Linked DNA regions of Homo sapiens. The protein of the gene in region 4 purifies or fractionates together with the protein of the main gene of each other region. This does not show direct contact. Each region holds a gene or a part of one and is shown on either strand. Other genes may lie near its edges. The genes, in order: TXNRD2, NFU1, SOD2, CS, SGK1, EIF5B and ITIH3.

Region 1 (4,381 bases), on a different chromosome or scaffold from region 4:
GAAAACCACGTTGGGCGCCAGATATTGGGGGAACCTGCCCCTAATATTTCAACGTACGTTCTTTCTATTTTCTGTAAGTGTCAGCCGGCTGAGAAATGAAGAGAAAGAGTACAAAGAGGAATTTTACAGCTGGGCTGCTGGGGGTGACATCACGTATCGGTAGGACCATGATGCCCACCTGAGCCGCAAAACCAGCAAGTTTTTATTAAGGATTTTAAAAGGGGAGGGGTTGTGCCAATAGGGAGTAGGTCACAAAGATCACATGCTTCAAAGGGCAAAAGGCAGAGCAAAGATCACATGCTTCTGAGGAAACAGGACAAGGGCAAAATCAGAACTCCTGATAAGGGTCTATGTTCAGCTGTGCACATATTGTCTTGATAAACATCTTAAACAACGGAAAACATGGTTTAAGAGCAGAGAACCAGTCTGACCACAAATTTACCAGGACGGAGTTTTTTCCCCACCCTAATAAGCCTGAGGGTACTGCAGGAGACCAGGGCGTATTTCAGTCCTTATCTCAACCGCATAAGACAGACACTCCCAGAGTGGCCGTTTACAGACCTCCCCCCAGGAATGCATTCCTTTTCCAGGGTCTTAATAGTAATATTCCTTGCTAGGAAAAGAATTTAGCGATATCTCTCCTACTTGCACGTCCATTTATAAGCTCTCTGCAAGAAGAAAAATATGGCTCTTTTTGCCTGACCCCACAGGCAGTCAGACCTTATGGTTGTCTTCGTTCCCTAAAAATCACTGTTATTCTGTTCTTTTTCAAGGTGCGCTGATTTCATATTGTTCAAACACACGTTTTACAATCAATTTCTACAGTTAACACAATTATCACAGTGGTCCTGAGGTGATGTATATTATCAGCTTATGAAGATAACAGGATTAAGAGATAAAGACAGGCATAAGAAATTATAAAAGTATTACTTGGGGGCCCAGGCGCGGTGGCTCATGCCTGTAATCCTAGCACTTTGAGAGGCCGAGGCAGCCATATCACAAGGTGAGGAGATCAAGACCATCCTGGCTAACATGGTGAAACCCTGTCTCTCCTGAAAGTACAAAAAATTAGCCAGGTGTGGTGGCGGGTGCCTGTAGTCCCAGCTACTCAGGAGGCTGAGACAGGAGAATGGTGTGAACCCAGGAGGCGGAGCTTGCAGTGAGCTGAGATTGTGCCACTGCACCCCAGCCTGGGCGACAGAGAGAGAATCTGCCTCAAAAAAAAAAAAAAGAAAAAAGTATAAAAGTATTACTTGGGAATTGATAAATGTTCATATTGAAATGAAATCTTCACTATTTATGTTCCTCTGCCACGGCTCCAGCCAGTCCCTCCATTCGGGGTTCCTGACTTCCTGCAACACAGGTGTGAGCCACTGTACCCAGACTAGGGGTGCAGTTTTTTTTTTTTTTTTTTTCTGAGACAGAGTCTCACTCTGTTAACCAGGCTGGAGTGCAGTGGTGCTATCATAGCTCACTGCAGCCTTGAACTCCTGGGTTCAACTCACCCTCCAGCCTCAGCCTCCCTAGTAGCTGGGACTGTGGGCCCTGCAGTTTCTCCTTTTAGAGTAGGAAGACCTGAACTGTCCCAGGCTTGGAGTGGGTGGGCGATGCAGCCCCTGAACAGGAGCCAGAATGACAACACCTGCTGCCAGGAAAGAGCTCTAGATAGAGCAGCCATACAGGAGGGCCCCTGAGGTGGCACCCTGAGGTGGCCAGCCTGCCTGTGGGTGCACATTTTGGGGGACCCTTCCACTTGCCCTCACTGGTGCAGTGCTGCATTCTCTTGGGCCTTGCTATGAGCTCTGGGCTCCTGCTCTTTGCTGGCCTGTACCAGGCAGTGGGTTCAAAGAGGAGCAGAAAATTAATGGACAATATGTCAGAAGGCAGAGGCAAGACAGACACTTGCTGGGGCCAAGCCCTGCAGGTGGAGAGGGTATGCCTGGCTAAAGTGGGTGAAAGGCAAGGTTATGAGGTTCTCCAGGACACTGGAGTGCACAGGTGGTGTGTCCCCAGGTAACGCCTGCCACCCAGCCCTTCCTCCCACAGAACAGCATCTGCCCTACCCACCTTTGAGGTACTTTGGGGTCCTTCCTTCCCAGCAGGCTACCCAAGCCCTTCCAAGTGCTTAAAGGCAGATTTCCTATGCTTGCAAACGACTGCCCTATGCCAGTGTTTATCAGCCCGAGAGGGCTCCTGGGTGTGCACAGGGGGCGAGCAAGCTGCCCAAGATAAGCACATCCATACAGACAGCTGCTCACCCTGCCTGATAGCAGACAGAGGGGGCACAGTGCGAGGCTGCAGGGCAGGATGACCTAACAAGGGCCCTGCTATGGCAACAAGAAGGACAGGCACCTGCCATGGAAGGTAGGGACGTTCTGAGCAAAGCTTCCGGCTACCAGGCAGCTGGAGGAGAGAGATGCTTCTCCATCAGCAGGTTCATGCTCCCCGGGGGACCTGGTGGCATTTTCTCCCTGACCAGCAGTCCTTGGTTCTCTAGACTTATATTAAAGCCATTAGAATAATTTACAACAATTTAGGCCTTTCCAGAGCCCTTGAGTTGAATTAGGAATTGAGTGTGCTTTGGACTGGCTGTTGGAACCGAGTTGTGGCTCTGTCAGTTCCCGCAGGTGCGCACACATCTCACGTGCACTCAGAGGCTGGCTGCCAGGTGAAAGAGTGGGTGGGTTTGGTTGTGGGGCAGGCTCGCTGCAGGCCATGGCCTGAGTGCCTGGATGCAGCTTCCCAAGCTTTCTCAGCTGTGAGCCAGGGCTCCTCTAGGCTCCAGCTCTTGTATCCTTTAGGAGTGCATGTTCTAGACCTGTCTGTGGGGCATCTGCAGGGCCAGGGTGTGGAGAGACATGACACTCCAAGTACACTCTCTGCAGCCTTGCCTGCCTAGGAAGGTGGAGGTGGCTGCAAAGATAAGTGCAGCCTTCTCATGGCAGACGCTAGGCTCTGATGGAGGTGTTGGGCAGGTTGCCCAGCCTTGTATGACAGACCCTGCTCTGATCATGGAACCTCTTGGCCTTGTCTGAAGCAGCGACCGGCTCCAGATGCTCTGGGAGGGTGGTGCTTCTCATCTGGGCAGGCTCGTGTCTGCAGAGGGGCTGAGGGCACTACTTGTTTTATACCCTAGAGTCTTGTCATCAGTCCCCACCCTGCCCTCACCCCAGCAGACTGATGACTTGCTATTATTTCTTCCTTCCTTCAGCAGGGAGTTGGCTGGTGCCTGGTGCTGGGTGTCCCGGACCTCAGGCCCAGTTCAGTGTACTTCCCCTCTCTACTTCCTCCCTCCAGTCCCTTCTCCATCCCTCCCTTTTTTGGCTGCCCCTTGCCTGCCTTCCTCGCCAGTAGCTTGCAGAGTAGACACGATGACACCTTTTGCAGGCTAAAAAGGCTGAGAGTGGCACTATGTGCAGTGAGCCACCATGGAGGACCAAGGTGAGGCGACACCACAACCAGCCCAAAAGGAATTCCAGGGATGAAACCTGAGCCCAGGCAGCTCTCCCTGTGCCCAGGGTGGCTTCCCTCCTAGCTGACTGCAGCTGGGCACACCAAGACCCTGGCTGTGTGCACTGGCCAGCTGTGAGGGACAGGGGCTGCTTGTGCTTTTATTCTTTTTTTTTTTTTTTTTTTTGAGACGGAGTCTCACTCTGTCTCCCAGGCTGGAGTGCAGTGGCGTGGTATCCGCTCACTGCAAGCTCCGCCTCCCGGGTTCACGCCATTCTCCTGCCTCAGCCTCCCGAGTAGCTGGGACTACAGGCGCCCACCACCATGCCCGGCTAATTTTTTTGTATTTTTAGTAGAGACGGGGTTTCACTGTGTTAGCCAGGATGGTCTCGATCTCCTAACCTTGTGATCCACCCGCCTTGGCCTCCAAAAGTGCTGGGATTACAGGCGTGAGCTACCGCCCCTAGCCTGTGCTTTTATTCTTGCTCACTTGTGACGGAGGGCAGCCTTCACAACTGAAAGGCACGTGGACTTGAGAATGTTTTAGTCCACCTTGGTGGCTCATGCTTGTAATTCTAGCACCTTGGGAGGCCAAGGTGGAAGGATTGCTTGAGGCCAGGTGTTTGAGACCAGCCTGGGCAACATAGCCAGACCCCATCTCTACAAAACAAAAAAATTTAGCTGGACGTGGTGATCGGTGCTTGTAGTCCCAGCTATTCTGGAGGCTGAGGCTAGAGGATCACTTGAGCCCAAGAGGTAGAGGCTGCAGTGAGCTGTGATTGTGCCACTGTGCCCCTGTCGTGGGGGCCCTTCCGGGTCTATGTCCCAGCCCTGTGCTGACCGTGTTCCTTCTCACCTTTCATCCCTCCCCCAAGCAGGGCAGTGGACTACAATCTTCTGGGTGACAGAGTGAGATCCTGTCTCAAAAATA
Region 2 (4,381 bases), on a different chromosome or scaffold from region 4:
TTAAATTTCCTTTCTTCATCTCTTTTTGTTGTTCTGTTTTATTTTATTACATAAAACCCTGTCACTACATACATGATTCCACAACTCACTACTGGGTTTTAAAAACCCTACCCTAGAAGTTACTTGCACATGTGCCCAAGATACGTGCAGGGATGTATTTACTGTCATAGACATCTGAGACATACAAGTGAAGAAAGCAACTTGCAGAACAGTGAGTCCAATATGATACTATGTATATAAAAGCAAAAACCACAGAACAACAAATGCACTGACAAAAAGATCTGGAAGAATACACACGAAACTGATAACAGGATTTGGTAGGGGTAGTCAAGGGGCATTTAAATTTTATTGTTTGAAACATTTACATCAAGAATGAGTTCATATTTTGTATTAAAAAAGTAAAAGTAAAAAAGCCCCAATTAATTCAGTTATAGATTAGTTAGAGATTATTTCTGTCAGATGTTCAGTTGGCAAAATCTCTTTTCAAGTTAGTCTTTTGAAAATAGTCTGTTTAGGCTGGGTGTGGTGGCTCATGCCTGTAATCCCAGCACTTTGGGAGGTGGGTGGATCACCTGAGGTCAGGAGTTGAGACCAGCCTGGGCAACATGGTGAAACCCCATCTCTACTAAAATACAAAAATTAGCTGGGCGTGGTGGTGGGCGCCTGTAATCCCAGCTACTTGGGAGGCTGAGGCAGGAAAATTGCTTGAACCCAGGAGGCGGAGGTTGCAATGAGCCAAGATCTCACCACTGCACTCCAGCCTGGGGGACAGAGGGTGACTCCGTCTCAAAAGAGAAAAAAAAAAAAATAGTCTGTTTAGTGCTCAGTACAGTGCCTGGCACTTAGTAGGTGTCAAATATTGGTTGAATGAATGATTGATAGTATAGATATAGCAGTCTATTCATTCACCAGGTGATGGACATTTCCATATTTTTCTGTATGTGTGGCTATTTTAAATGAAGCTGCTATGAAGATTTATGTACAAGTCTTTGTGGAGCACGAGTTTTTATTTCTTTTGGGTAAATAACTAGGAGTGGGATTGCTAAATCGTAGAGTAGGAATATAAAACAAAATTGGCCATGAGTTGATCATTGTTAAAGCTGCAAAGGATATGTGGAGAATTTTTTACTTTTCTCTACTTTTGTGTATGTTTAAACTTTTCCATAATCAAGCATTTTAATATCTCTTATTTTTTCTTTTTTTGCAGGCAGTTATTTAGGATTGAAGGAGTAAAAAGTGTCTTCTTTGGACCAGATTTCATCACTGTCACAAAGGTAAACATAGGATTATATAAAATAAGACTTGAAATACTCTTCATTTTTTTCTGAGTCCAATGCCTCTCTCTCCAACATTTCCATTCTTTCTGTTCTTTAATTTTTATATTTTATTTTTGAGACAGGGTCTTACTCTCTTGTCCTCTAAATGTCACAAGAATCAAGCGAAATATGCTATGTTTTTCTTTTTCTTTTCTTTTTCTTTTTTTTGAGATGAAGTCTTGCTCTTGTCCCCCAGGCTGGAGTGTGATGGTGCGATCTTGGCTCACTGCCACCTCTGCCTCCCAGGTCCAAGTGATTCTCCTGCCTCGGCGCCCCCCCCCGCCACCCTGAGTAGCTGGGATTGCAGGCGCCTGCCACCATGCCCAGCTAATTTTTATATTTTTAGTAGAGACAGGGTTTCGCCATGTTGGCCAGGCTGGTCTAGAACTCCCGACCTCAGGTGATCCACCCGCCTCGGCCTCCAAATTGCTGGGATTACAGGCGTGAGCCACCACGCCTATAAAAAATATGCTATGTTTTTCAACAGTCAAGGCAGTATCTGCTAGAAAGGGCTGTTCCATTTTTGATGTCTACTAGATTAATGGGACATGAACTATTTAAATTTGAACTATGTATCCTTTTAAATCTGTTAATTGACATATATCCACGGAACTTAAATCACTTGCCTGATAGTGTGTGAAAATCAAAAATATTTATTAAACTCCCCTTAAGCAAATTGAAAGGATTAGTCTGAGCTCTTTATGTCCTTAAAAGTGGACATACTGGGGGCCGGGTGTGGTGGCTCACGCCTGTAATCCCAGCACTTTGGGAGGCCGAGGTGGGCAGATCATGAGGTCAGGAGATCAAAACCATTCTGGCTAACATGGTGAAACCCCGTCTCTACTAAAAATACAAAAAAAAAGTAGCCGGGCATGGTGGCGGGCGCCTGTAGCCCCAGCTACTCAGGAGGCTGAAGCAGGAGAATGGCGTGAACCCGGGAGGCGGAGCTTGCAGTGAGCGGAGATCGGGCCACTGCACTCCAGCCTGGGCGACAGAGCGAGACTGCATCTCAAAAAAGAAAAAAAGGGGACATACTGGGTTAGTGACATGTTAAATCTAGTCATCTAGTCCAGTATTCTCTTGCGGCTATTTATTTAGAGACAAAGTCTCACTCCACACCCAGGTCAGAGTGCAGTGGCATGATCTCAGCTCACTGCAGCCTAAGCCTCTTGAGCTTAAGCAGTCATCTCACCTCAGCCTCCCTAGTAGCTGGGACTATACGTGCATACCACCATGTCCAACTAATTTTTGTATTTTTTGTAGAGATAGGGTTTCGCCATGTTTTCCAGGCTGGTCTCAAATTTCTGAGCTCAAACAATCTGCTCACCTCGGCCTCCCAAAGTGCTGGGATTACCGGTGTGAACCACCACGTCCAGCCCCCCATTCTTCAGTTTTCTTTCTTCCATATTTTTTAAGGAGAAGAAGGGATGAACATTTATTTAATATATTCAATGTCGGATATGGCCCTAGTGCTTTACATATGTTATCTAATTCTTACAACTAGTTATTTTATAAGTGGGAAATTATATATTTATTTTTTAAAGTTATTTAGTTCTTTTACGTATAGCCTATGCTATATAAAAATTTTTATAGGTAAAAATGTGATTATATCTTAAAGGGTTTTGGTTTTTTTTTTTTTCCTATTTTTCTTGATTAGATTTAGTAAGTCATCTTTTAGCTCTCTTACTTTCATTATTTAGTTACCCTATTTGAAATTGCCCTAGCTCTACAATTTTTTCTTAAGTGAAATGACATAACCAATAGATAATATCCCAAGTTAGGGTATATGTTGATACACATATATGTATGTGTGTGTGTATATCTATCTATCTACACATACATATAGATGGGATCTTGCTCTGTTTCCCCAGGCTGGAATACAGTAGTGCGATCATGGGTCACTGCAACCACTAACTCCCAGGCTCAAGCGATCCTGCTGTCTCAGCTTCCCGAGTAGCTGGGACTACAGGTGCATGCCACTATGCCCAGCTAATTTTTTTTTTATTTTTTTTTATTGTAGAGACAGTGTCCTTCTATGTTGCCCAGGCTGGTCTCAAACTCCTGGGCTCATGCAATCCTTCTGTCTCGGCCTCCCAAAATGTTGGGATTACAGGTGTGAGCCACCACGCCTGGCCCACGTTGGTATTTAATAGACGGAATACTGGATTTATTTTGTTTTCTTCCAGTAATGTTTCTCATCATGGACTATCACATTTTACTGAATGTCTTCAGCAATCGCCTGTTTCTATTTCTGATTTCCAGTTGATAATTAGACTTCTTTATGCATCATTTGTGTTATTTTTTTCTAAATATATATGTATATTTGCAGCTTATATGCTGCCCTTTTTTTCTCATTCAGACAACTTTAGAATATTTTTTCTTTTTATTACCAATATTTTCCTATTTAGTAGAGCCTGCTATTTACTGAAGATCTGAGGTAACACTCTGATTTGTTTTCCAAATAATTTATTACCTACAACTAGTTTCCATTCCCAATCACTAAGATATTTCACTAGTTTTACTTTTATAACCTTAGCAGTCCCCATTTATCTCACCTTTTATGTACTATCTCTATATTGTTTCCTTTTTTTGTTTTTTGAGATGGAGTCTCACTCCGTCGCCCAGGCTGGAGGGCAGTGGCACGATCTCGGCTCACTGCAACCTCCGCCTCCCGGGTTCAAGCGATTCTCCTTCCTTGGCCTCCCTAGTAGCTGGGATTACAGGCCTCTGCAACCACGCCGGCTAATTTTTGTATTATTAGTAGAGAAAGGTTTTCACCATGTTGGCCAGGCTGGTCTCAAACTCCTGACCTCAGGTGATCCACCCGCCTCGGCCTCCCCAAAGTGCTGGGATTACAGGCATGAGCCACCATGCCCAGCCAAATTTCTTTCATACCCTTTAAGTAATATATATAAGTAAATTTTTTGAATAGTTGTAGGCTGTTCCGTATACTTGATCAAGCAATTACATCCTATGTTTTTTTTAAGAGAATGGGAATCTCTTTATCATCTTCTTTAAAGACAGAAAATCCATTTAATATTTTGTCTTCACATCATGAAAAACAT
Region 3 (4,381 bases), on a different chromosome or scaffold from region 4:
CTTTTTGATTCCTACTAAGCTTTAAGATTTAAAAAATGTTCAATGTTGAAATTTCTGTGGGGCTCTATTTTTGCTTTGGCTTTCTGGTGAGAGAGTGAGGAAGCATTCTTTCCTTCACTAAGTTTGTCTTTCTTGTCTTCTGGATAGATTGATTTTAAGAGACTAAGGGAATTTACAAACTAAAGATTTTAGTCATCTGGTGGAAAAGGAGACTTTAAGATTGTTTAGGGCTGGGCGGGGTGACTCACATCTGTAATCCCAGCACTTTGGGAGGCCAAGGCAGGCAGAACACTTGAAGGAGTTCAAGACCAGCGTGGCCAACGTGGTGAAACCCTGTCTCTACTAAAAATACAAAAATTGTTTAGCTCTGTTTTTCATAATAGAAATAGAAAAGGTAAAATTGCTTTTCTTCTGAAAAGAACAAGTATTGTTCATCCAAGAAGGGTTTTTGTGACTGAATCAGCAGTGCCTGCCCTAGTCATAGCTGTGCTTCAAAAACCTCAGCATGATTAGTGTTGGAGCAAAACAAGGAAGCAAAGCAAATACTGTTTTTGAAATTCTATCTGTTGCTTGAACTATTTTGTAATAATTAAACTTTGATGTTGAGAAATCACAACTTTATTGTACACTTCATTGCAACTTGAAATTCATGGTCTTAAAGTGAGATTTGAATTTCTATTGAGCGCCTTTAAAAAAGTAATACCAAACCATAAAGTTAAAATCTATGTATATTGAGTCATATCTAAAACCACGTATAAACATAAATTGTATTTCCTGTTTTAATTCCAGGGGAAGTACTGTTTGGGAAAGCTATTATTAGGTAAATGTTTTACAAATTACTGTTTCTCACTTTCAGTCATACCCTAATGATCCCAGCAAGATAATGTCCTGTCTTCTAAGATGTGCATCAAGCCTGGTACATACTGAAAACCCTATAAGGTCCTGGATAATTTTTGTTTGATTATTCATTGAAGAAACATTTATTTTCCAATTGTGTGAAGTTTTTGACTGTTAATAAAAGAATCTGTCAACCATCAAAGAGGTCTGCATTATGCTTGCATGTCAAAAACTTTAAAAATCCTATAATCTTCTGTCATTTTCACTGAGTTTCCATGGGAAAGGAATAGTAAATAATGGGTAGTTGAAATATTACTCTTAAGACCAAGACCTGTATCTCCAGTCATATCTGTAATAACATCATCTGATAACCTAAAAGCATAGTATTAGGGATATACGACAAAACCAAAGTGTTTTTGCTGTTGTCACATACCACTCAATACTTTTACACCAGGTTGTCCAGTGGACACCAGCTGGATGTCCTATAATTCAATTCTGACACTGTCTACCTGGAATTGGAGTCAGATCCCACAGGTGGAGGGCTCAGCCCACAAGACTGCCCCCACTCCAGATACCAATCGCAAGTCCCTATACTTCTGACTGGCTATAAAGTGGGGTTCCCGTGACCCTTTCCTTGGTTTTGATTTATTTGCTAGAGCAGCTCCCAGAACACAGAGAAACACTCTACTTATGTTTACCCATTTTTAATTTTATTACTTTATTAAAACTACATATTGGTTACAATACTAATTTATTGTAAAGGATATTTCATTTATTTATTTTTTTATTTAGAGATGGAGTCTCACTGTGTCACCCAGGCTGGAGTGCGGTGGCACAGTCTCAACTCACTGCAACCTCCACCTCCTGAGTTCAAGCGATTCTCATGCCTCAGCCTCCCAAGTAGCTGGGATTACAAGTGTGCACCACCATGCCCAGCTAATTTTTGTATTTTTAGTAGAGATGGGGTTTCACTCTGTTGGCCAGGCTGGTCTCAAACTCCTGACCTCAAGTCATCCACCCACCTCAGCCTCCCAAAGTGCTGAGATTACAGGTGTGAGCCATTGCCTCTGGCTTGTAAAGGATATTTCAAAGAATACAGATGAACAGCCAGATGGAAGAGATGCACAGGGCAAGGCATGTGGGAAGGGGTATGGAGCTTTCATGCTCTCTCCACGTCATCAGCTACCCAGAAGCTCATCTGGACCCCGACCCTTTGGGGTTTTACGGAGGCTTCATTATGTCAGCATTACCATTGGCAATTGGCGATTAACTCAACCTTCAGCCTCTCTCCCCTTTCTGGAGGTTGGGGGTTGAGGCTGGGAGTCCAAACCCTCCAATCTTGCCTTGGTCTTTCTGGTAAGCAGCCCCCCGTCCTGAAGCTACCTAGAGGCTCCCAGCCACCAATCATTTCATTGGCAAACCAAAGATACTTCAAGGGGTTTAGGAGCCAAGAGACCAAGCAAGGATTGAGACAATATATATATTTCTTATAAATAACATGATCACAAATAGTATTTTATATATTTCTCATAATAGCTGGTTGTGGTTACTCACACCTATCATCCCAGCTACTAAGAAGCTAAGGCAGGAGGATCACAGGCCCAGGAGTTTGCAGCTGTAGTGAGCTATGATTGTGCTACTGCACTCCAGCCTGGGTGACAGTGTGAGACCCTGTCTCTTAAAGTTCTTGTAACATCTTAGAACATTAACCAACCACAGATTATTGCCTTAACTCTGAAAAATAAAGTAATCATACTTTTACAAGATGTATTTTACATAAAGTTCTGGTGATATTTTACTCTGGTCATTGGAATATAGGAGCTTACCACCTGGTACCACTCTTCCTAAAGTGGTATACTATTTGGTATAGTACTGGCATACTATTTGGAAAGGGATGTGAAGTTGGCATGACCTGTCTAGGGTGAAGTCATGCTGTCTGCTATTCATTGTGGGCTTTACAGTAATGAGAGTGCTTCTGTTGTCAAGATGCTTCTGGGACACGTTAAAAAAAATTTAAGATTTCTCAGTTTGTGAAAAGGAAGGAGCACGAATGCTTTCAAGTTCCTATGACATGCTAGTCATCTTTCAGTGTGTCCCATTGTTGCACCCAGTAGTCTCGATGCCCAGCGTCACGGTGATTCCAAGTTTGCCTCTCTGCCCACTATAATTTGTGCTCCATGAAGTCCCAGGACATGAGGTTCTTGTTCATTTGTGCGTCTGGGCCCATATCCAAATATTAAACAATGTGACTTAATGTATTTATCATATTGTAAATATGGGTATCCCCAAGGCTCAGAAGTTAACACAGCATATCCACAGAGAGGTTTGACAGCATGGCTGTGGTGACTGGGAAGGCCTTATGCTTGCTCCTCCTTCTGCTGCTTGCCTTTGTGTGGGCATGGAAAGAACATTGAATTAGGTACTGGAAGACCTGGGTCCTGGTCTTGGAGATTTTACCAGAGCACCTGTGGGATATTGGTCAAGATGCCTGGTTTTAGTCCTGCTCCTTTGCTGTGAAAGAGGATCTTAAGGTGCCAACTCTGGCATTTTATTTTTTACTTATTTATTTTTAAATTATACTTTAAGTTCTAGGGTACATGTGTACAACATGCAGGTTTGTTACATGTATACATGTGCCATGTTGGTGTGCTGCACCTATTAACTCGTCATTTACATTAGGTATATCTCCTAATGCTATCCCTCCCCCTTCTCCCCACCCCTCGACAGGCCCCGGTGTGTGATGTTCCCCTTCCTGTGTCCAAGTGTTCTCATTGTTCAATTCCCATCTATGAGTGAGAACATGCGGTGTTTGTTTTTTTGTCCTTGGAATAGTTTGCTGAGAAGGATGGTTTCCAGCTTCATCCATGTCCCTATAAAGGACATGAACTCTTCCTTTTTTATGGCTGCATAGTATTCCATGGTGTATATGTGCCACATCTTCTTAAACCAATCTATCATTGATGGACATTTGGGTTGGTTCCAAGTCTTTGCTATTGTGAACAGTGCCACAATAAATATACGTGTGCATGTGTCTTTATAGCAGCATGATTTATAATCCTTTGGGTATATACCCAGTAATGGGATGGCTGGGTCAAATGGTATTTCTAGTTCTAGATCCCTGAGGAATCGCCACACTGTCTTCCACAATGGTTGAACTAGTTTACAGTCCCACCACCAGTGTAAAAGTGTTCCTATTTCTCCACATCCTCTCCAGCACCTGTTGTTTCCTGACTTTTTAATGATTGACATTCTAACTGGTGTGAGATGGTATCTCATTGTGGTTTTGATTTGCATTTCTCTGATGGCCCATGATGATGAGCATTTTTTTCATGTGTCTGTTGGATGCATGGATGTCTTCTTTTGAGAAGTGTCTCTTCATATCCTTCACCTACTTTTTGATGGGGTTTGTTTTTTTCTTGTAAGTTTGTTTGAGTTCCTTGTAGATTCTGGATATTAGCCCTTTGTCAGATGAGTAGATTGCAAAAATTTTCTCCCATTTTGTAGGTTGCCTGTTCACTCTGATGGTAGTTTCTTTTGCTGTGCA
Region 4 (4,381 bases):
CTCCTGCCTCAGCCTCGCGAGTAGCCAGGACTACACGCACCCGCCACCATGCCCAGCTAATTTTTGTAGTTTTTTAGTAGAGACAGGGTTTCACCACGTTGGCCAGGCTGGTCTCAAACTCCTGACCTCAAATGATCCACTTGCCTCAGCCTCCCAAAGTGCTGGGATTACAGGTATGAGCCACAGTGCCCGGAAGATTTTATGTTTTTTTGTTTGTTTGTTTGTTTTTGAGAAGGAGTCTCACACTGTCACCCAGGCTGGAGTGCAATGGCACAATCTTAGCTCATTGCAACCTCCCTCTCCCAGGTTCACACTATTCTCCTGCCTCAGCCTCCTGAGTAGCTAAGATTACAGGTGCACACCAACACACCCGGCTAATTTTTTGTATTTTTAGTAGAGATGGGGTTTCACTATGTTGGCCAGACTGGTCTCGAACTTCTGACCTCGTGATCCACCACCTCGGCCTCCCAAAGTGCTGGGATTACAGGCGTGAGCCACCGCGCTCAGCCTGATAGCCACTTTCTAGCACCGTTCGGTGTCAGGTTCAGTCATGTTTTTTGCTAAACCTGAAGCTTAAAAAAAAAAAGTTATCAGAGGAATTTTAAAGGCAGCAATTCATTGGTAAGATTGCTCAAAAGGGTAGAGTAGAAAAAATTCAACTTAGGACAACTTTATCTAATGATGTAGAGTACAGAGCACTTAATTTGGAGTTAGGAAAGGAAGTCTGGGTTCTAGTCCTAGCTCCATTACTAATTAAGACAACCAAAGGAAAACAATGAACTACTATTTCTCTTCCCATTTCCATAATTAAGATAACACTTAAACTACTTAACTCAGAGTCTGATTCTCAGGTTCCAATAAGGACGTATATGCAAAAGTAGTCAAGTCTTGTTACTTAAAATGTGACCTCCTCGCCAGAAGTATTTACATTTCTTGGGCCTCAGACTTACTGAATCCAAACAGTTTAGATATGGAGTTACCAAGGACCAAGTCCTAAATGAACGTTCTGCCACCTTCCCACTGTGTTATCTTGGCTATGTAACCTAATTTCTAAGTCTCAGTTTTTACATTTCTAAAATGGTAATAATAAAAGCCAATTTCAGAGTAGTTAAGTAAACTAAATAAAATAATTTTCATAAAAGCATCTAGAACAGTGCTTTGTGCATAGCTGAATTCAGTAAATATTTGTTTCTTACAAATGTGTTGGCCTATCACCTACCATCAAGTGTCAGAACTTCCTGGGAGTTGGATCCCAGGAAAGAGGCAGTCAAGCCTGAGGCAGAGGTGAATGGATAATTCCTTCCAGCTGTGGAATACAAAATAAAGTCCCAATTTTCTTTCTTTCTTTCTTTCTTTTTTTTTTTTAACAGGCATCAAGGAAAAGATACCAGTTTTCTTTTTAAGGGCTTCTTGACCAAGAAGGGAGGCATCTCAGGGAGAGGAAACAAATTTAACTAACCCTGATGGCCACCAGCAGAGCAAATGACTCTAGACAGGAGGTGCTTGAGGACTGTAACATCAAAGGCTACATTTCATTTCCTCTACCCCGTGGCTGCCAAAGAAAGCTGCTGAATGGCTCTGAACAGTACATTCAGGTTATGTTCATTGATGAGACAGGTAGATTACAAACCTCTGAATCATCCCTGAACTTCTACCTCCCAGATTCTCCCCTAATCCTGGAGGTGTGACAGTTGGGCTTTTGGCTTCTGGATGCATGCCACCTGTAGAGTCACCTTACTGGAACAGCAGCTCTCAGGAGAATCAGGCAGTCATCTCACTCAATAGGTCAGCTCCTTCATGGGGAGAGATGGAGAGGGCTACTTCCAAAGACAAGGGCCTGGCTCACAATGTCTGACAGCCAGTATTCTCTATAGGGTGGAGGTGGCGTTATCACAATCACGAAGAGGTTTTTCCCCCACAATCACTAAGAGCTCATTTGTTGCCACCCCTTACAAGAACTCCTCTAGTGAGTCAGCTATTATTGATAGAGGTGGGCTGTAGCCCTCAAATGTGGTAAGATGAAAAAATATAAAAATTAAAAGAGGCCAGGTATGGTGACTCACACCTTCCTTTGTTCTCCTCTGCCTTTGCCTCTTTAAAAAAGTTCTAAGTTGCAGCTGGGCACTGTGGCTCAAGCCTGTAATCCCAGCACTTTGGGAGGCCAAGGCAGGCAGATCACGGGGTCAGGAGATCAAGACCATCCTGGCTAACATGGTGAAACCCCGTCTCTATTAAAAAATACAAAAAATTAGCCAGGTGTGGTGGCAGGTGCCTGTAGTCCCAGCTACTCGGGAGGCTGAGGCAGGAGAAGCTCCGGGAGGCAAAGCCTGCAGCGAGCCGAGATTGTGCCACTGCACTCCAGCCTGGCTGACAGAGCAAGACTTGGTCTAAAAAAAAAAAAAAAAAAGTTCTAAGTTGCTAGCCAATCAGGACAAATACAAAATGTGAGGTCCCATTCCAGCCAATGGAAACTGGAACTGGACACAGCAGTAGGGTGGATGCATCAGGGTATAAATGACCCTGTCTCCTTTGCTCGGTGTACTCTCGTGGCAAAACTGCTGGCGTGTACCCTTTCTGCAGAAAGTATAAAAATGGCCTTGATGGCCTGGCGCGGTGGCTCACGCCTGTAATCCCAGCACTTTGGGAGGCCAAGGCAGGCGGATCATGATGTCAGGAGATCGAGACCATCCTGGCTAACAGGGTGAAACCCCATCTCTACTAAAAAAATACAAAAAAAAAAAAAAAAAAAAAAAATTAGCCGGGCGTCATGGCGGGCGCCTGTAGTCCCAGCTACTCAGGAGGCTGAGGCAGGAGAATGGCGTGAACCTGGGAGGCAGAGCTTGCAGTGAGCCGAGTTCGCACCACTGCACTCCAGCCTGGGCGACAGAGTGAGACTCTGTCTCAAAAAAAAAGGCCTTGCTGAGTAAATTAAATTAAATTAATTAAATTTATGTTCAAGTGCTATTTCTTTACAGCACCAGGGAACAAGCATTTCAAACAGGAGGCTGAGGCAGAAGAATCGCTTGAACCCAGGTGGCTGAAGCTGCAGTGAGCTGAGATTGTGCTACTGCACTCCAGCCTGGGCAACAGAGGAGACTCTGTCTCAAAAAACAAAACAAAACAAAAAAAGCCCACTTACTCAATATAGGTTATTTTCCTCTTACTCCTTAGCCTATTACCATCACTGTTCCACATCTAGCACCCTCACCCTACAGTCAAGAAGCCAAATTTTCTTTGATTCTCCATCCTAGGTACATCCAGACTCTCTCTGTCCTTCTGCATATCCAGGATATGTCCTACCACATATCCACATAACCAACATTAAAACCTTGGGGGAGGCTGGGCGCAGTGGCTCATGCCTATAATCCCAGCATTTCTGAATTAAAAAGCAAGACTCTGTCTCTACAAAAAATAATTTAAAAAATTAGAAAACAGGCTGGACACGGTGGCTCACGCCTGTAATCCCAACACCTTGGGAGGCCAAGGTGGGTGGATCACCTGATGTCAGGAGTTCAAGACCAGCCTGGCCAACATGGTGACACCCCATCTCTACTAAAAATACAAAAATTAGCCAGGCGTGGTGGCACATGCCTATAGTCCCAGCTACTCGGGAGGCTGAGGCAGAATCGCCTGGACCTGGGAGACGGAGGTTGCAGTGAGCTGAGATTGCGCCATTGCACTCCAGCCTGGGTGACAGAGCAAGACTCCGTCTCAAAATAATAATACTAAAAAAAATTAGAAAACAAAACAGAAAAACCTTGCGGAAGAAGCTCCTGATTTTAACAGGGACTTCGTCCTTCATCAACAAAAGATCAGAGCTTGCCAAGCCAGCAGGACTGGCTTAGCTGATGGAGCAAACACAATACACTAATAACCAGTAGGAAAAAATCCTGTACTACAGACACTTCCAATGCAGAAGGAACAACTTGCATTCAGAGAACACGAACACAAATAGGACAAAGGCTCCTCTCTCCCCAGAACCAGGTCAGAGAACTAAAGCCATTTAATGTGTGTGTTTCACAACGGTGATACTGGAAGTCGGTTTGGCACTACATGGTCAGGCCACTTAAAAGCCTGAGCAATCTACAGATTTCATACTTTGACCTCCTTCATACTTACAGACATTTCCTTAATAATTCTACCTAACTGTCATTTTCCAACAGTCTCTTCACGTGAATAGTCACCGATCACTGCTGGGTGCAGTGGCTCATGCCTGTAATCCCAGCACTTTGGGAGGCCAAGGTAGGCCGATCACCTGAGGTGAGGGGTTCAAGACCAGTCTGGCCAAGATGGTGAAACCCTGTCTCTACTAAAAATGCAAAAATTAGTCGGGCACGGTGGCGCACACCTGTAATCTCAGCTAACCGGGAAGCTGAGAAAG
Region 5 (4,059 bases), on a different chromosome or scaffold from region 4:
GAGCCGATGGAGACTGATAACGGCCCTGCGCCAGGCCGTCCCCGGGCGGTCCTCGCGCCCCCGCCCGGGGCTCGCCCTCTCAATGGGGACAGAACCGCCCGCCGCAGGCAGCGTAGCCGCCAGCAAACCGCGAGGCGGCCGGGGCGGGGCGAGGGGCGAGGCGAAGGGCGGGGCCACTTCTCACTGTCGCGCAGGCCCCGCCCCCGCGGCGGTGCCTTTTTTATAAGGCCGAGCGCGCGGCCTGGCGCAGCATACGCCGAGCCGGTCTTTGAGCGCTAACGTCTTTCTGTCTCCCCGCGGTGGTGATGACGGTGAAAACTGAGGCTGCTAAGGGCACCCTCACTTACTCCAGGATGAGGGGCATGGTGGCAATTCTCATCGGTGAGTGCAGGAATCTTGCGGGACTTCTGCTCCAGGAGACGCAAAGTGGAAATTTTTTGAAAGTCCCGGATCAGATTAGTGTGTGTGGCGCCGGACGTTATGAAGCCGTCTAAACGTTTCTTTATTTCTCCTCCTTCATCCACAGCTTTCATGAAGCAGAGGAGGATGGGTCTGAACGACTTTATTCAGAAGATTGCCAATAACTCCTATGCATGCAAACAGTAAGTTTGACCGGATTTGAGGAAATAACTAGTATAGTTTGAATTTGCCAGCGGTAAACATTCTCATCACGGCGTTTATCGGGAAGGCGAAGACTTCTTCTGGGGTGGGGATCTCATTTCTCCTTAAATTCTAATATATTTGACACATTTTAAACATTAAAGTTAATTTGCTGATTTGGCTTGAACTGGAGATGTAAGATAAATGGTTCGTGTTGGCCGAATTCACGGCCTTTCTCCATGAGCAACAATCCTTATTTCTGTATTTAATGGGGTTTATTATTTTCTTTAACTGACTAATGTATTGGGGTATTTTCAGTTTAAACAGTGAATTATCCGGGTAGAAGTCGGTAGAGCCAGAAACTCACTTTTGATGTTGGTGTGCCCCCTAGTGGCGAGCTGGATTCTAAATCGTGCCCTTTATTCCCTGCAGCCCTGAAGTTCAGTCCATCTTGAAGATCTCCCAACCTCAGGAGCCTGAGCTTATGAATGCCAACCCTTCTCCTCCAGTAAGTTTTTGTATGTGCCGTGCATCTGTGGAGAACTGTAAGGGAGTCAGTTAGTATTCCTACATTAATGGATTAAAATAGCATTTCTAGAAATTAGTATCAAGGCAGGAATGCTTCATTATGGCATAACAAGTGATATAAATATTTAAGTATTGAGTCAGAGTATTATTTTATTTTTTTCCTGGGCATATTTTACCTCCAAAGTGGTTATTTTAAAAGGCATATTTCATAAAAAGGTTTTATCTGTCTGAAACAACATGACTGTGTGCAGTTTCCATACTCATTTGAAATGTGATGAAATGTAGTTTTGAATGTTTATAGATGTATGGTCATTTGCATCAGTCATTTGTAGATGTAACATTTTCTACATCGTTTATGTTATAGATGTCTTCCTTTGAAGCAATGGTATTAAAAGAAATTCTTTTTTTTTTTTTCTAGCCAAGTCCTTCTCAGCAAATCAACCTTGGCCCGTCGTCCAATCCTCATGCTAAACCATCTGACTTTCACTTCTTGAAAGTGATCGGAAAGGGCAGTTTTGGAAAGGTAATTTCAAATCTGAAGATCTTTTGGTACACTTCCTTCATGTCCTCTTTTGTATTCTCCCTGGATGAGGATAGAAAAATGATTTTTTTAAATTGAAATTTCAGGTTCTTCTAGCAAGACACAAGGCAGAAGAAGTGTTCTATGCAGTCAAAGTTTTACAGAAGAAAGCAATCCTGAAAAAGAAAGAGGTATGAGATGTGCTTGATGGGGCTGGCATTGGCGGTAGACACTCCTTGAATAATCTTGATTCTGGAATGTTGGTGCCAAGTTGAAACATGCCACTAAATCTGAATCGTCATTTTCCTAGGAGAAGCATATTATGTCGGAGCGGAATGTTCTGTTGAAGAATGTGAAGCACCCTTTCCTGGTGGGCCTTCACTTCTCTTTCCAGACTGCTGACAAATTGTACTTTGTCCTAGACTACATTAATGGTGGAGAGGTGAGCAGGGGGGATAGAAGTCAACTCTTAGTGTCTCTGCACAGCCTGCTTTGTTTTAGTTTGAGAAAAAAGTTTTCAAAGATTTTTGGTGGGGAGAATGTTACCAGAATTAGCATTTCCTTCAACCTGTCAGGTTTATAGTTAATAGATTACTTGGGGCCACTTCCTGCAGTTGTTCTTTTGCTGTGTATGTCAAAACTAATTAAATTCATTTGCAACCCAGAATGACTTTGTTCTGTCTCCTGCAGTTGTTCTACCATCTCCAGAGGGAACGCTGCTTCCTGGAACCACGGGCTCGTTTCTATGCTGCTGAAATAGCCAGTGCCTTGGGCTACCTGCATTCACTGAACATCGTTTATAGGTAAGCCTGAGAGCTCTTCAGGCTACCAGTTTTGGTATAAAGGAGACGTAGCACTGGCTGTTTCATAGGGCCTTAAAATAATTTGTGTTTATTTGCAACTTGGTTGCCTAAAACCAGATCCCCTAGCACGTGAGCTGGCTTGACTTAAGTGCCAAGGGGGAACCAGCCAAGTAGGATTGTGCCTAATCCAGAATAGATGAGCAGAACAAGGGCTCCCTTTTTTCTTCACTACACAACTACAGTGAACCTAAAATGCCTCTAATACCTTTAGCAATTATCTTTAAGAGGATATCTTATGAAGTGAAATTAACTTGTGCAACTACTTTTCTATTCACTTTTTTACAGAGACTTAAAACCAGAGAATATTTTGCTAGATTCACAGGGACACATTGTCCTTACTGACTTCGGACTCTGCAAGGAGAACATTGAACACAACAGCACAACATCCACCTTCTGTGGCACGCCGGAGGTAGGCGCTGTCTTGGTTTGGTGCCTGGTTTACCCCCGCCTTCCAAGAGAGAGATGTACAATCATGCACTTAACTACCAAAAAGAGTAAACTCCTCTCAGAGACTTCTTAATACAGTTCAGTGCAAATAAAATACATTTGCTGTTTGATGTAGCATGAGAAATCCCAAGTCCTTCTGTTCCTTTACTGAAAAGTAGCTGTTTGTAAGTAAGATCTGCATCATAAAAACTTTCTAAATCCCTAAGTAAGAGATATCAAGTGCCCAGCAGTTTCCTAAATGTCAGTACACATAGGTAGCCAGTCACCCTCAAAAAGTCCAGCAGTTTTATCAGGAAGGAATCTAAAGATATCTATCTTCCAAGCTGGCTCTGGGTCTCTCAGCTTTTTCAAACTAAATGTGTGGTCGTGGGATTGCTTGCTTTCGCAGGTTCTAAACGCTGTTTCCCTGGTCTGTTTTTCAGTATCTCGCACCTGAGGTGCTTCATAAGCAGCCTTATGACAGGACTGTGGACTGGTGGTGCCTGGGAGCTGTCTTGTATGAGATGCTGTATGGCCTGGTGAGTGGCACATTGGGAACCATGGAACACTGCCTGCTCCCTACAATATTGCCTTCACACAGCCCATGCTTGGCCATGGTGTCTTGCCCTTACCAGTACGCTTATCAAAAGCAGCTAAGAGGCATATTGGTTATTTTATAGTTCATAAGAATAATCACTTACCTGGTTCTTTTGTGCATTTCACATTTTACTAGATAGGACCACATTGAACCTGTGTGGTGGTGAAAAACTACCACTTATTAACATCTACCCCCTCACCCTCCACACACACACACACAAACACACACACGGGTTGCAAAGTAGACACTTAAATAGCAAGGGAAAAGAAAGCATTGAGGTGGGGAGAGTTTCTCAAATCGAGCCTAATATTTATTGCCGTTTATATCTTTTTCTCTACTGGTAATGTGTGCCATATGAAACTTCCAATTAAGTCTAAAGTAATTTTCCCCTTCTTTCAGCCGCCTTTTTATAGCCGAAACACAGCTGAAATGTACGACAACATTCTGAACAAGCCTCTCCAGCTGAAACCAAATATTACAAATTCCGCAAGACACCTCCTGGAGGGCCTCCTGCAGAAGGACAG
Region 6 (4,381 bases), on a different chromosome or scaffold from region 4:
AAGTTTGTACCTAATTTCATTTAAAATTTTACAAAAGCTATATTCTCCATTAAGAATAAAACTTTCTAAAATCTAAGTACTGGGTTTCTTCACATCTAATGTTCCTAGCTGAACATATGCGTAAGAAAAAGTTGCACAGACCAGCTTAAATTTCAGCTCTGTGGCCTTGGGTAAGCTGTTTACACTCTGAACCACCATTTCTTCATCTATATGATGGAAGTAAAAATAGCTATAAGATTTTTTTATGAGGGAAAAATAGACAATGTCAAAGACATTGTAGCATCAGTTACACACTAAGCACACAATAAATGGTAGCTATTACTGTAATTATAGCATAAACACCAAAATGACTGTAATATAAAAATCTAGGGAATATAGGAGCAGGAAATTTAAGAGAGGTCCCAATATATTCTTCTCATTGGAGCAAAGACACTATTTTAAATCACCTTACCTTTCAAAAAAGTAATAAATTATATGCCCAGTTGTGATCTCTAAACACTATTACCCTCTAAAAGGAACAAAAGCTCTTTGGATAAACAACCGATTCCAGGTCTCAGCCCATGCAAGATGAACCTGGGATATCTTGTTGCATCAGAAAGTAAGGAAAGGGTTAAAAAAAAATGGTCATGAATACTTTTTCACCGTGGTCATGTGGGCAAACTAATATGCTGTCTGGGAATCACTGTATTTCTTTTTTATTTTTTGGGATTCACTTTAAAACATGCTAGGATAAAAAGTAGATGGAGAGGTACAAAACAAGAATGTCAAATGGTCCTAATTGTTGAAGCTGGCTGATAGGTACACAGGGACTCATTCTATTATTATCACTATTCTTGTTTGTGGGAGGATAACTTATTTAGACATACTATCATTTACATATAAATTTTTATCCTCATGTAGATGTCATCTTCCTAAACAATGAAATGACATCACCTATTCCTTACGTTTTACTGAACTTTTTCACAGATTTTTCATAGGAACTGTCCTGATGCAAATTCCATTCTCCTTCTGAACATTAAGGGATATAACTGCATGTGCAGAGCTCTCTGACCATTCAGTTAATGAAGAGTACCACTCACCCTGAGCTTGTAGCAGTTTAAGAGTAGCTTCGGCTCTGGCTCTGGCTTCTCTCTGGGATTTAGTTAAAAGTTTCCCTTCTTTTTTCAAGCGTTCTTTTCTTTCTTTTTCTTTTTGCTTTTTCCTTTCTCTTTTTTCTTGTTCCAATCGTTCCTATAAAAGAGTACATGTCAGACAAAACCTGTATTCATTTAATGAACTATAAAATTCAAATGTAAACAATCCAAACTTCAAATAAATCTCTTGAGACACATGCAAAGTATTATGTTAGGAGATTCCAAATCAAAGTATTTTAAATGTTATACATGATTATTAATTAATATCACATCAGATTATTGGCAATGATACATAAGCAACTTATGTATCGAGCAATCTGTTCTTGAGAAAATAAAGATAAGATGTGCTGTACCTCTTCATCTTATTATTTGTATCGGAACAATAATATAACTGAATTACCATGCAACTATGAAATTTTCAGAATTAGAAGAGTAAAGATATTTTACAGAGAATAGATTTTAAGTTAAACACAATATCAATGTTACCAACTTCATGAAAACATACCTCTTCTTTACGCTTGGCTTCTAATTCTTCAAGCCGTTTTATACGTTCTTCCTCTTCTCTCTTCTGTCTTTCTTCTTCCTCTTTAAGCTTAGCCAGAGCTTCTTGCATAGCTTTAACAGTGGCTTTGCTAGGTCCTTTTTTCTTCTCTTTCTCTTTTTCTTCCTTTTCTCCTTTCTTTTTCTTCTTATCTTTCTTCTTTTTGTCTCCTTCATTGTCATCTACCAAAAAGAATAAAGGCAAAGCATTGAAATGAAAAAACAATTCCCTGTGGTGATGACGAGCAAAACCCAACCACAATTCAAGGACCATAATGGGCCAAGGCCGATGCCAGCAGCAGGCTAAGTTCTACAGGCATCAAGGCATCCTGAGCACTTTGGTAACTAGAATAGCTCAGAATAACTCACAGATGGCCTCCTGAGAAGTCTGCAATACTGATGTTGGTCTCAGATGTCCTGAGGAATACAGTAAGACAGAAGGATACTGTCAGCAGCAAAAGGGCAATCCTGTACCTAATGTATCTCTAAATCCATGGTACCTGAGTGGCTGGTGTCCAACAGATGCTTATATGAAGTTCTAACAATCAGAATGAACTAACACCCACGTAAGTTCTGTAGCTAATTTCACTTCTACAAGATGGAGTTAATGAGAATGATGTCCACTTTAGGGGGTATTAGTAGGATAAAATACAAAAATATAGGTAGTTATACTCCAAGAACTCTAAAGAATTAAAAGCTATGAAGGTACTTTCATGGTGTTCCTCCTCGAATATATCCAGATAATAAATATGCTAGCATTTAAAAAAGTTGCTGGGCACGGTGGCTCACACCTGTAATCCCAACACTTTGGGAGGCTGAGGTGCATGGATCACCTGAGGTCAGGAGTTCGAGACCAGCCTGGCGAACATGACGAAACCCCATCTCTACTAAAAATACAAAAATTAGCCGGGCATGGTGGCGGGCTCCTGTAATCCCAGCTACTTGGGAGGCTGAGACAGGAGAATCACTCGAACCTGTAAAGAGGAGGTTGCAGTGAGCTGAGATCGTGTCATTGCACTCCAGCCTAGGCAACAAGAGTGAAATTCCGTCTCAAAAAAAAAAGTTGTGTCAATTTTCCCATTAAAAGTTTTCCAGTCAAAAGAAAAACTACTGCTTTTGTTGGTTTTTTGAGACAGAGTCTCAGTCTGTTGCCCAGGCTGGAGTGCAGTGGTGCGATCTCCGCTCACTGCAAGCTCCGCCTCCTGGGTTCACGCCATTCTCCTGCCTCAGCCTCCCGAGTAGCTGGGACTACAGGCGCCCGCCACCATGCCCGGCTAATTATTGTATTTTTAGTAGAGATGGGGTTTCACCATGTTAGCCAGGATGGTCTATATCTCCTGACCTCGTGATCTGCCTCAGCCTCCCAAAGTGCTGGGATTATAGGCGTGAACCACCGCGCCCAGCCCAAAAACTACTGTTTTAAGAATATAGTATGGCCATGCAAACCATCTGATCTTTAGCTATTTTCATTCTAAATAAGAGGAAGAAATTAGCTAGAACTTTTATTTTATAATTGGTTGTTAAAAAAATGGCTCATTATTGCTTAAAAGACACTAATTTTAGCATGTTGAGTTTTAAGTGAAGCAGAAAATATTAGCAACTTCATGAAAACATTTCTTTGTGAATTTCATAAATTGAACTAGGTTTTTAAAGACAGGAAAGAATTCAAATATTATCTGACACTGAGTTATCAGAAAGGAAGAATAAATTTTTCATTAAGTAACTTCTATAGCCTTTATCAACAGCAAAAAAAATAGTTTTCATAATGCAATTCTATAAAAATTCCAGTCTGTACATAAATAATCTGAAAGATATTTATACTATATATGTAAAGAATTAACAATGCAAATCAAGTCAAATACTTAGACGTAATTTTTTAGATGGCTCCTTACAATCAAGTGTCTTTATACCCATGGACAAATAACAAAACGACCTTGGGGCACAATGATTACAACTTATACTGTGAATCAAAAGCCTTTTGCTCTTTCCTCTAAAGTATTAACCAACCTTCTGCAGCTGTGGGAGTCTCTGCTTTCTCTTCAGAGGCAGGAATTACTCCAGTATCAACAGTCACTTTGGATTTTACAGTTTCTTCTTCAAATTTCCTTTGAGATTCCTTTTGTTTACTCTGATCCTTTTTACCTGTTTCTAACTCTTCTTTTTCTTTCAGCTTCCGCAGTTTCGCTTTTTCTTCATCTCGCTTTTTTCTCTCGCGCTCCTTCTTTTCTGCCTTCTTTTGGGCCACTGTCTTAATTTTGAAGGAGGCGTCATCATCTTCATTCCCACTTTCTATGTTAGGACCTGGCTTGTTTTTCTGATTTTTTTTCTGTCCTTTTCTAGATTGCAAAAATTCATCTGATTCATCACCACTTTCACCAGAAGAATTTATTCTTGAACGCTCTTTAATTTTTTTACTGTTATCCTCATCCTCCTCTGACCCATCCCACTTCTTATTTGATTTTTGAGCTTTCCCTTTAGCTTTTTTAGGAAGTTTGTTAAAATCATCATCATCATCACTCCCAGAGTACATTTCCACTTTCGGTTTTGCAGTCTTTTTTGATTTTGAATCTTTATCTTCCAATTCTTCGCTATCATTATCATCAAAACTCTGTTTTTTGCCCTTCTGTCCTTTCTTTTTTTTATCTTTTGAGGTGAATTCCTCTTCATTGTTTTCTGTTGGCTAAAAAATTTCCATTGTTAGAAAAAAT
Region 7 (4,381 bases), on a different chromosome or scaffold from region 4:
ACGGCAGCGGGGTGCAGGAACCCGCCCATGGGGCAGTCTCAGACAGGGGTCAAAAACAAAAGTTCTGCCTCACGGCATCCCCCATCCTTGGCTGGGAAGGCTGGAGGAATTCAATGGTTCTGGCCAAAAGCATCTGGGGCCAAGGGGAAGAGGCTGGGATGGACTCCACAGATGCAGATTCGGTGCTGGGCCCTCAAGAGCAACACCAGCAAGTGCCTCTGTAAGGCTTCTCACTGGGCACATGGGCATTTTTCCTACCTCAAAGCTGAAAGCCAAAGGAAAAGCATCAGTGGTGGAATTTCGGGCGCATATGGCAGGCGGTGGTAACACCTCCCGATCAGCATACTCTCCTCCAAGCCCCTGTGGTCACTTTCGCAGTGGGAGACACCAGGCTTGGCCCTCAGCACTGTCCTAGAGGGTCCCTGCATCACCACAGACCCATCTCATTCCCATTGGCCTTGTTCTGGGAACTGGCCTCTGAGGTCACTGAGTGACATTTCCTTACTTTGGCCATTTCAGATCGAGGTAGACATCTTCGAGCCTCAGGGAATCAGCATGCTGGATGCTGAGGCCTCTTTCATCACCAACGACCTCCTGGGAAGCGCCCTCACCAAGTCCTTCTCAGGGAAAAAGGTGATGTAGATGCCTCTCAGACCTGGTGGGGCAGGGGACAGGAATACTGACTCCAGCAGAACAAGCCTGCAGCCTAGGGCTTAGCTGCTGCAAGCATGCATGTGTTGGGGTGGGGCTGGGGATCAATCTGCAACTATCACCTTCCTCCTTGCCCACTGGGGTTGGGAGTGAGGATGCTGAGGGCAGGGGCTGCTGACAATGACCTGCCAGAGGAGCCATTTACAAAGCCTGGTCCCGTTCCCCCTTGGGAAATGGACAGGGCAGGGCTTATCTTCCCTGTTTTACAGGTCCCGAGGCTGAAGCCCAAGGGAGTCATTTAGATCTACTGACTCCACAATGAGAGGTGAAAGACTAAAGAGAACTTCATTCTTGGTGCTAGGTGGTTGACTCCAGTCCCCAAGGCTCCCAGCTGTTCCAGGGGCCTTAATGGCAGTGGACAGTGGGTGAATAAATGTTTGTATAAACAACAAACCAATCATCCAGGACTTCCAGGGCGAGGCCCGAGGAGCACACACTCAGAGGACTGCTGGCTTCTGCAGGGCCACATCCTGCCCCGGGACCCTCCTCCTCCCCTTTCTCCTCCTTTCTCCCTCCCCTCCTCTTGGCACCCACACACCAACATTCCAAACCTACAAGAAATTCCTTTTAATGGGAAGCTACCCCTTCCCTAAGTAGCTTCTCAGTGCTGAGCTCCAAGGTAGCCTGGGCTAATGGGTGTGTGAGGCCAAGAAAAAGGGAGCTGGAAGCTGAATCAGCCAAGGCCTGTGCCCAGCCAGGAGCCCTGATCTCCAAGGGGAAAAGCGGTGCTCAGAAAGGCCGGAGCGTGGTAAACAGTGCCTTCCAGTGAGTCCTGGGAGCTGCAGAGCACGCCACCGGCGGGCAGGGCTGCCCAGGCCTCCAGCTCTTGCTAGCCTCTGCCCTGCCAAGGGCTCCTCCCTGTGAGGCTGCACCTCTGCTCCCTCAGCTAAGGGCTGAGGTCTCCCAGTGGGCAGGCCCTGGCCGAGCTGAGCAAGGTCTTTCATCTCCATCCCTTAGGGCCATGTGTCCTTCAAGCCCAGCTTAGACCAACAGCGTTCATGCCCAACCTGTACAGACTCCCTCCTCAATGGAGATTTCACTATCACCTATGACGTGAACAGAGAATCTCCTGGCAACGTGCAGGTACCCGGGCTGGCTGATTCATCATCAGGGTGGGGCGAGGGCTGGTCGGGCGGGGGCTGCAGCTGGATCTAGTGCCATCACCCTGGGTCCTCAGCCCAAGGCTGTTTTCCTGCAGGATGTGGGACAGCTGATGGCCTAGAGCCTGGTGCAGCACCCCCTAGAGGGTGGGATAGGAACGTCTTTTTCTTGGGCTGGTAAATGTCTGGCTTCTACCTGCAAGAATAGTCAATGTGGTGTTGCTAAAAGGACACCGGCCTCCGTCCCTCTCCCCACTTTCCAGATAGTCAATGGCTACTTCGTGCACTTCTTTGCACCTCAAGGCCTTCCAGTGGTGCCTAAGAACGTGGCCTTTGTGATTGACATCAGCGGCTCCATGGCTGGTCGGAAATTAGAGCAGGTAATCAGCACCAGTGGCACAGCCAGGGCTCGGGGTAGTAGGGGGTGGAAGAGATTTTTTTTTTTAACTGGAAAAAGCTGATCTTTGTGGTGAATGAGGAGAAAGGGGACAGGATAAGAGAAGGCTCACGGCCTCTGCCCGCTTCTGTGGCAAGCCTCAGGCAGGGCTCGCTGGTGCAGATGGCGTGGGCTGCACCGCCTGCTGAGCTGAGAAGGGACCTCACTCTCTGCTGCGGCTTCTCCCAGCTCTTTGTCTCTCCTCCAGACAAAGGAGGCCCTTCTCAGAATCCTGGAAGATATGCAAGAGGAAGACTATCTGAATTTCATCCTGTTCAGTGGAGATGTGTCCACATGGAAAGAGCACTTAGTCCAGGCCACGCCCGAGAACCTCCAGGAGGCCAGGACGTTTGTGAAGAGCATGGAGGATAAAGGAAGTAAGAGCGGAGCTGGAGCCCACACACCTCCTAGCGGTGCCTCCCTCTGTCCCTGAGCAGCCTGCAACCCCCCTCTTAGGGACTCTGCTGGTCTCAGGCCCTCTTCAGATCTGAGCTGGGGTAGAGGTGGGAGTGGATGGTCCTCAGGCTTGAAGACAGAATATCGGCTGTCTTCTCCGTGGTCCAGGGAAACCCATTCTTTCTGTTTCTAATCCATGATCCTGGTATCTCACAAGTCCCAGCAAGATAAGGCCACAGAGAACCCTTCTTCTTGGCCCTGTTTCATATGGAAAATGGCACGATGTCTACACTGCTCCCCTCTCCTCCCAGCAAGAGGTACTGGGAGTCCATCCAACTCTGCCAAAGGGCTTTCACAATCACCATGTGCTTTTCGTCTTCACCATGTGCCTTTCATCCCCATTTGAAAGTGGAAGTTGTTTGTTTGTTTGTTCATGTGGTGGTTCATTCATTGTTTGCTGAGTACCACCATGGGCTGGCAGATAGGGTCCTTGGGCACATGAGTGGGGCCGGCTGTCCCGGCCTCCTCCGCTCCAGCCTGTCTGCACACTGGCACCCTGAGGACACCCTCCCACGGTGCTGTCTGTCTGTGTCCCAGTGACCAACATCAATGACGGGCTGCTGAGGGGCATCAGTATGCTGAACAAGGCCCGAGAGGAGCACAGAATCCCAGAGAGGAGCACCTCCATTGTCATCATGCTGACTGATGGGGATGCCAATGTTGGTGAGGAGCACGGGCATGGTTTTGAGCTAGGGCTGGAGTGCTTGGCTGCTGCTCCTGGCTCTGTAGCTGGCTCATTGGAAAACCTGGGGCAGCTCTTCCCTGGGTTCCCTGTGGTCTGGGAGCCCCTCAAGGGCAGGGTCCTGCCTCCCTCTGCCAGGGCTCTCCACCACCTGCCCCACAAGGGCTCATGGTCGTGACTCCAGCAACTCTGCATGTGCAGGAGTCCGGTCTCCCCAGACAGAGCTGGTCTAGACCATCCCCAGGGCTGGGGCTGGACTGTGAACACCCCCTTCTCCAACAGGTGAGAGCAGACCCGAAAAAATCCAAGAGAATGTGCGGAATGCCATCGGGGGCAAGTTCCCCTTGTATAACCTGGGCTTTGGCAACAATCTGAATTATAACTTCCTGGAGAACATGGCCCTGGAGAACCATGGGTTTGCCCGGCGCATTTATGAGGACTCTGATGCCGATTTGCAGTTGCAGGTATGCCTTGTCTTGCACACTTCCGGGCATAAGGAGCTCACTACTTCCTCAGACAGCTGCTCCATAAGGTGACAGTTCTAGTTATTAGGAAGAGCTTCGTCTTGGGTCAAAATCCACCTCTGACTATCTCTTACCCATCAGTAAAGATTCTGATTTTGTCCTTGGGCTACACAACAGGCCCGTTTCTTCAACAGGATTATCAGAGCAAACACAGGACATCTGGTTCAATATGAATTTCTGATAAATAATGAATTTTTGTAGTGTAAGTATGCCCCAAATATTGCACAGGACATTGTATTAGTGTATGGCGGCTGCCATACCAAAGTACCAAGTGGCTTCAATGAGAGAAACGTATTGTCTCCCAGTTCCAGAGCCCGGACATCCCAGATCCATGTGGCGGTGGGTTGGTTCCTTCTGAGGGCTATGAGGGCAGATCTTTCTAGGCCTCTTTCCTTTTCTCCATGGCTTATCAATGGCTGTCTTCTCCCTGTGTCTGCACATGTCTTCCCTCTGGATGTCTGTGTCCAACTCC

Evidence for each region.
Region 1: the proteins of CS (region 4) and TXNRD2 fractionate together in Homo sapiens (co-fractionation; one large-scale study listed by BioGRID). This does not show direct contact.
Region 2: the proteins of CS (region 4) and NFU1 fractionate together in Homo sapiens (co-fractionation; one large-scale study listed by BioGRID). This does not show direct contact.
Region 3: the proteins of CS (region 4) and SOD2 fractionate together in Homo sapiens (co-fractionation; one large-scale study listed by BioGRID). This does not show direct contact.
Region 5: the proteins of CS (region 4) and SGK1 purify together in Homo sapiens (co-immunoprecipitation; one large-scale study listed by IntAct). This does not show direct contact.
Region 6: the proteins of CS (region 4) and EIF5B purify together in Homo sapiens (affinity purification with mass spectrometry, with the first as the bait; one large-scale study listed by BioGRID). This does not show direct contact.
Region 7: the proteins of CS (region 4) and ITIH3 fractionate together in Homo sapiens (co-fractionation; one large-scale study listed by BioGRID). This does not show direct contact.

What each region holds. Positions count from the first base shown.
Region 1 is NC_000022.11:19,931,417-19,935,797, reverse strand, and holds part of TXNRD2 (thioredoxin reductase 2, mitochondrial isoform 5 precursor), read left to right. Parts: intron 1-2,067; exon of another isoform or gene 2,068-2,131; intron 2,132-2,271; exon of another isoform or gene 2,272-2,357; coding exon of another isoform or gene 2,358-2,364; intron 2,365-3,244; exon of another isoform or gene 3,245-3,428; coding exon of another isoform or gene 3,429-3,441; intron 3,442-4,381. UniProt on the Homo sapiens protein: Involved in the control of reactive oxygen species levels and the regulation of mitochondrial redox homeostasis. Maintains thioredoxin in a reduced state. May play a role in redox-regulated cell signaling.
Region 2 is NC_000002.12:69,416,431-69,420,811, reverse strand, and holds part of NFU1 (NFU1 iron-sulfur cluster scaffold homolog, mitochondrial), read left to right. Parts: intron 1-1,207; coding exon 1,208-1,274; intron 1,275-4,381. UniProt on the Homo sapiens protein: Iron-sulfur cluster scaffold protein which can assemble [4Fe-4S] clusters and deliver them to target proteins.
Region 3 is NC_000006.12:159,675,774-159,680,154, reverse strand, and holds part of SOD2 (superoxide dismutase [Mn], mitochondrial isoform A precursor), read left to right. Parts: 3' UTR 1-4,381. UniProt on the Homo sapiens protein: Destroys superoxide anion radicals which are normally produced within the cells and which are toxic to biological systems.
Region 4 is NC_000012.12:56,290,001-56,294,381, forward strand, and holds part of CS (citrate synthase, mitochondrial precursor), read right to left. Parts: intron 1-4,381. UniProt on the Homo sapiens protein: Key enzyme of the Krebs tricarboxylic acid cycle which catalyzes the synthesis of citrate from acetyl coenzyme A and oxaloacetate.
Region 5 is NC_000006.12:134,171,054-134,175,112, reverse strand, and holds part of SGK1 (serine/threonine-protein kinase Sgk1), read left to right. Parts: intron 1-246; exon of another isoform or gene 247-305; coding exon of another isoform or gene 306-381; intron 382-526; coding exon 527-602; intron 603-1,032; coding exon 1,033-1,108; intron 1,109-1,546; coding exon 1,547-1,651; intron 1,652-1,755; coding exon 1,756-1,839; intron 1,840-1,958; coding exon 1,959-2,090; intron 2,091-2,338; coding exon 2,339-2,451; intron 2,452-2,796; coding exon 2,797-2,920; intron 2,921-3,380; coding exon 3,381-3,476; intron 3,477-3,934; coding exon 3,935-4,059. UniProt on the Homo sapiens protein: Serine/threonine-protein kinase which is involved in the regulation of a wide variety of ion channels, membrane transporters, cellular enzymes, transcription factors, neuronal excitability, cell growth, proliferation, survival, migration and apoptosis.
Region 6 is NC_000002.12:99,361,120-99,365,500, reverse strand, and holds part of EIF5B (eukaryotic translation initiation factor 5B), read right to left. Parts: intron 4,354-4,381; coding exon 3,681-4,353; intron 1,857-3,680; coding exon 1,639-1,856; intron 1,231-1,638; coding exon 1,080-1,230; intron 1-1,079. UniProt on the Homo sapiens protein: Plays a role in translation initiation.
Region 7 is NC_000003.12:52,797,298-52,801,678, forward strand, and holds part of ITIH3 (inter-alpha-trypsin inhibitor heavy chain H3 isoform 4 preproprotein), read left to right. Parts: intron 1-519; coding exon 520-633; intron 634-1,668; coding exon 1,669-1,794; intron 1,795-2,074; coding exon 2,075-2,191; intron 2,192-2,455; coding exon 2,456-2,624; intron 2,625-3,240; coding exon 3,241-3,366; intron 3,367-3,667; coding exon 3,668-3,849; intron 3,850-4,381. UniProt on the Homo sapiens protein: May act as a carrier of hyaluronan in serum or as a binding protein between hyaluronan and other matrix protein, including those on cell surfaces in tissues to regulate the localization, synthesis and degradation of hyaluronan which are essential to cells undergoing biological processes.